2 separate regions of the Homo sapiens genome follow, and region 2 is linked to region 1. Evidence: fine-mapped expression QTL. A gene starts in region 1. The other region holds a variant in brackets. All regions are shown on one strand. Distances are from middle to middle. Region 1 holds the start of PDCL3 (phosducin like 3). Region 2 has its middle 14 kb from the start of LINC01849.

Evidence for each region. PIP is the estimated chance that this variant, and not a neighbour inherited with it, causes the effect. A credible set is the group of variants that fine-mapping cannot tell apart.
Region 2: its variant is the best candidate, but not a certain one, in a credible set for the expression of PDCL3 in cerebellum (GTEx, PIP 0.67).

The regions. Positions count from the first base shown.
Region 1 is chr2:100,561,880-100,564,379 of GRCh38, reverse strand. It overlaps PDCL3 (phosducin like 3), which reads right to left and starts at 1,387. Exons shown (of 6, transcript NM_024065.5): 1 at 1,307-1,387. The coding sequence starts at 1,312. RefSeq lists a silencer at 1,061-1,400 and an enhancer at 1,846-2,500.
Region 2 is chr2:100,588,648-100,591,663 of GRCh38, reverse strand. It overlaps the pseudogene HMGN2P22. Among named protein-coding and RNA genes, the nearest start is that of LINC01849, 14 kb to the left of the region's middle. The variant A/T (reference allele first, on the strand shown) is at 1,104.

The DNA of each region.
Region 1 (2,500 bases):
GCTTGCAGTGAGCCGAGGTCGCGCCACTGCACTCCAGCCTGGGCGACAGAGCAAGACTCTGTCTCAAAAAGAAACAAACAAACAAACAAACAAAAAGAGCAGAATCCTTTCTACAGGGTGGTCAGGGAAGGCCTCAAGGGACCTGAAGGACAGGGAATGCAAAGGAGGCCAGGGCAGCCCTCAAGCTACCACTTCACCATTTAAGAGTGTCTAGGCCAGGTGCGGTGGCTCATCCTGTAATCCCAACACTTTGGGAGGCTGAGGCTGGGCAACATAGGGAGACCCCATCTGCACAAAAAATTAGCCCAGAGTGGTGGGTGCACGCCTGTGGTCCCAGCTACTCCGGAGGCTGACAAGGGAGGATGGCTTAGCCCCGGGAGGTCGAGGTTGCAGTGAGCTGTGACAGAGCCACTGCACTCCAGCCTGGGCAACAGAGCAAGACCCGGTCTCAAAAAAAAAAAAAACAGTGTCTGGCTCCTGGCAGACACGCCCTCCCCTCCAGCCCCTAATGCCTCCCTCCCCAGCAAAACCCGCACCCTCTCCTCTCCATCTGCCACTAAGCAGAGATTAGAATTTCTGACCACTGCGGGATCTTTGGACAGTGACAAAATTTAGTTGGCATAGGTTTTCACCCACAATAGTGCCCATTTCCATGGTGTTTTCATTCATTCTCCTTAGGCTTTAACCAAATTCCGCTAGTAAATTGCAGCTACAGAAAAATAATTTATTTTACCTATTTTAATAAAAAAAAAAAAAAGGACGAAACAGAGGGACCCTCGCGGGGAGCTCTGGAACCCGAGCGGTCAGATAGGGAACACGCCCCAAGCGGATCCCAGGGCTCGGGGGAAGAGGGTGTAACTAAGCCCTCACCTGGCTCTCAGTGGAGCCAGGAACACCGGCTGTGGCGCTGCTTTACGTGCGGAAGACCCCAGGCCGGACCCTCCGCTTCCTAACACCTCTGCCCAGGTGTGCCTTAGGGGAGTTCAGGAGAGGAGGTAACTTTTGTTAGGCGGGATCCGGCAAGACCTTCACAGGCCCGGGTGGGTAGAGACCGCGAGAAGACATAGTCCCGGAGGACGAGGTTTGGGGGACCCGGCACACCGAGGCGGGGACGCCCAGGCCGTGGGTCCTGGTGGGACCACGCCCGCCTCCCGCACTGCGCCTGCGCAGGGCCTGGACGCGCCGGGCCTCCCTCGTGCCTGCGGCGCCGGAGCTTCCCCCAGGGCGGGCGTCCACTGCCCGCCCGGGCCTAACGAGACAAAGGAACGGGCCGCAGCCCCCAGACCCGAGACCCGTCCTAGCTCACCTGCATCTTGTTTCCAGTTCAGTTGCTCAAACCAGCTGTGCCGCAGCGCCCCCGCCCCTCAGCTCTCTTTTGTGCACGCGCACAGCGCCGCCACGCCTCTTCCCCCAGCCCAGCCTTCGCCCCGCCCAGGGACGAGCGGCGGGGAGTAAGGGCGGAAGCAACAGCCTTGAGTCTGCGCCTGCTCTTCAAGGAACTGGCACAGAAGCGTTCGCATGCGCCAGATAGGATCTGCCTACTGTCCTGCTCGGAGTGCACTTGACCTGGTTCTAATTCTGGTGGCTGCCTTATTAGGGCTGGTCTTCAGCGGAGGAGGGGTGGGGCTGGGTGGAGGAGGAGCCCGGGGCCGTGTGCCTTTTCCAGCTGCCGGCCCAAACCTGTAAAGACGTCTCGCTCTGACTAGCCTAACAAGTCAGAAATAGAAAATTGCCTCTAGGCCGGGCGCGGTGGCACACGCCTGTGATCCCAGGCCGAGGCGGGCGGATCACTTGAGGTCAGGAGTTCGAGATCAGCCTGGCCAACATGGTGAAACCCCGTCTCTACTAAAAATACAAAAAAATTAGCCGGGCGTAGTGGTGGTTGCCTGTAATCCCAGCTACTCTGGAGGCTGAGGCAGAAGAATTGCTTGAACGGGGGAGGCGGAGCTTGCAGTGAGCTGAGATCTCTCCACTGCACTCCAGCCTGGGTTACAGAGCGAGACTCCGTCTTAAATAAATAAATAAATAAAAATGATGCAGGGTCTTCTGGAATTCACCCACGATCACTTCAGCCTTGGAAAAGGCAACTCATTAATAAGACATTGAGAGCCTGCTGTGTACCAGGCACCATTCTAGGCTCTGCAGATGCAGCAGTGAGCAAAACACTAAAACAAAGGTGAAAGTCATCTGCCGTGCCTGAGTATCAGGAGACCCATGTATGCAGGCACACAGGCACTGAGCAAAAAGCAGCAATCTGACTTGTAAAATGCAGGTATTGGGCTCCAGAGCTTCTGCCCAGGCACACTCCAAGTTTAAGAGAGCAATATTCCTACCTGGTATGGAAGGAAGCATCTTGCACACGTGGGCTAACTTGCTGCCTCCTGGCAACTAAGCGGACACAGAGAGTAGAGACCCACACACCTGTGAGATAGGCGCAGGGCTTCCAACCGTGGCTATGCATTAGAATCACCTGGAAGCCCTCAAAAACTAGGAATGTCCT
Region 2 (3,016 bases), 27 kb before region 1:
CAGTAATCATATAATGTAAACATATTTGTCATACATACTGAGAAAACTGAAACTTTGTGTGACTTGCTTTATTGCAATATTGAGTCTGGAACTGAGCCTGCAATATCTCTCTTATGCCTGTATTTTACCTTTTAAAAAATGTATGCACAAGAGGGATATGTAACAAAAATCTACATTCCATTTTGTCCAAGCAAGATCTTTTAAACATATAAAATAGAACCAAGGGAGCAGGGTGAAGAAGAAGAGGCGAGAACGACCCCCCCCGACCGACCAAGCCCACGGGCCGCTGCATCCCACGCCCAGCGCCTACGTCCTGCCACCGTCGCTGCCGATACCACCATGCCCAAGAGAAAAGCTGAAGGGGATGCTAAAGGAGACAAACCCAAGGTGAAGGACGAACCACAGAGAAGATCTGCGAGGTTGTCTGCTAAACCTGCTCCTCCAAAGCCAGAGCCCAAGCCTAAAAAGGCCTCTGCAAAGAAGAAAGAGAAGGTACCCAAGGGAAAAAGGGAAAAGCTGATGCTGCCAAGGAGGGGAATAACCCTGCAGAAAGTGGAGATGCCAAGACAGAGCAGGCACAGAAAGCTGAAGGTGCTGGAGAGGCCAAGTGAAGTGTGTGCATTTTTTTTTTTTTTTTTTTGAGATGGAGTCTCGCTCTGTCGCCCAGGCTGGAGTGCAGTGGCGCAATCTCGGCTCACTGCAAGCTCCGCCTCCCGGGTTCACACCATTCTCCTGCCTCAGCCTCCTGAGTAGCTGGAACTACAGGCACCCGCCACCGCGCCCGGCTAATTTTTTGTATTTTTAGTAGAGACGGGGTTTCACCGTGTTAGCCAAGATGGTCTCGATCTCCTGACCTCGTGATCCGCCCGCCTCGGCCTCCCAAAGTGCTGGGATTACAGGCGTGAGCCACCGTGCCCAGCCCATGTGTGTGCATTTTTGATAACTATGTACTTCTGGTGACTGTACAGTTTGAAATACTATTTTTTACCATGTTTTATAAAAATGCAGAATTTTGTTTTACTTTTTTTTTTTAAGCTATGTTGTTAGAACACAGAACACTTCATTGTTGTTTTGGGAGGACGGGGCATGTGTCACTAATAGAA[A/T]GTCTCCGAAGCTGGATCGATGTGGGGAAAACACCTTTCCCTTCCAGTTTTGAGAGACTTCCTCTTGGCTCCCAGGAGGAGGGATTCCCTGACTTTGACACACATGACCACCTTGGCACAAAAGCCTTGTGGTATGGAAAACAAATTCGTTTTTATGTCCTCTTCTCCCTTTCCATCTTTCAGCAGAAAATTAACTCCCTTAAACCCAGACATCTGCTGGGACCTGACCCTCAATCATTGGTTACCAGTGTGTCAGGCAATCTGGACTTTCCAGTGATGCCACTGAGATGGCACCTGTCAAAAGAGCAGTGGTTCCATTTCTAGATTGTGGATCTTCAGATAAATTCTACCATTTTCATTTCACTTTCTGAAAGTCAGGGTCGGCTTGTGAAAAGTTGTTAAACAACATGCTAAATGTGAAATGTCAACCCTCACTCCAAACTTTCCCTATTCAGAGCATGAGATGAAGACTTCATTGGGTTTTATAGTGGCTTTCTGATTTCTGGTAGTCCATTGAAGAAGAGAGTTTGAAAGTTGTTGTATACTGTTAACGATTGTCTGCCCATGTCCTGCCTGAAATACCATGATTGTTTATGGAAAGTATCTTTAATAAAGCTGCATACAGTTTGGCTTGGGAAAAAAAAAAAATAGAACCAAACTCTGTGCAAGTTCAGACTCATGCTGCACCACCAGCATCCACACTGGGTCATCTGTGAAGTCCTTCTCCAAGGCACACAGACAGTTGCTCAGCCTTTGCGTAAGGACAGCCCGGAAGTGGAGGGCAGTTCACTCCCCTGGGGCACCCTCAAGTGGTGGAGGCCAGGGTTGGGTGATAAAGCAAGATCCTCTCTGTGGGTGGACAACTCTGGGAGGTCATCTACATGCTTCTTAGAGGTTTCAAAGGGATTGAGTTTCCGCTGCCACCAGCCCTGACCTCACATTCCCACCCTTCTGTCAGCTTTTCCCTTTCCCTGCCTCTGTCTCTCAAAGCTCTCATGCCTTCATCTTTGTTTTTTCTGTTTTGTTTTGTTTTGAGAGACGGAGTCTTGCTCTGTTACTCAGGCTGGAGTGCAGTGGCACAAACTTGGCTCACTGCAACCTGCACCTTCCGGGTTCAAGGGATTCTCCTGCCTCAGCTTCCCAAGTAGCTGAAACTACGGATGTGCACCACCACACCCAGATAATTTTTGTACTTTTTAGTAGAGACGGAATTTCACTCTATGTTGGCCAGGCTCGTCTAGAATTTCTGACCTCAGGTCATCCGCCTGCCTTAGCCTCTCAAAATGCTGGGGTTACAGGCGTGAGCCACCACACCCAACCACATGCCTGCATCTTTGGATCTCCTCTCGAACAAACTGTACCCAAGTCCCCGCTCAGGCTCTGCATCTGGGCAGACCCAAACTAACACCTATGTGTCCCTTTAGTTCTGGCACTTTACTATAGACACATGACAATCAAGAACTGAGTACCACCTTTCTTACAGGATTACAATTTCCTTTTTTTTTTTTTTTTTTTGAGACAGAGTCTCTCTTTGTCAGCCAGGCTGGAGTGCAGAGGTGTGATCTCACTTCATTGCAACCTCCGCCGCCTGGATTCAAGCAATTATCCTAACTCAATCTCCCAAGTAGCTGGGATTACAGGTGTATTCCGCCGTACCTGGCTATTTTTTGTATTTTTAGTAGAGACAGGGTTTCACCATGTTGGCCAGGCTGGTCTTGAACTCCTGACCTCAAGTGATCCGCCTACCTCAGCCTCCCAAAGTGCTGGGATTACAGGGGTGAGCCACCGTGCCTGGCACAATTTCCATTTTGATGTGATTCATGAACTGCCATATTTTAAAATAAATTTAATTTTTTTAGTATAGTTTTAGATTTGCAGAAAAATTCAGAAGCTAGTACAGTGAGTGCTCATAT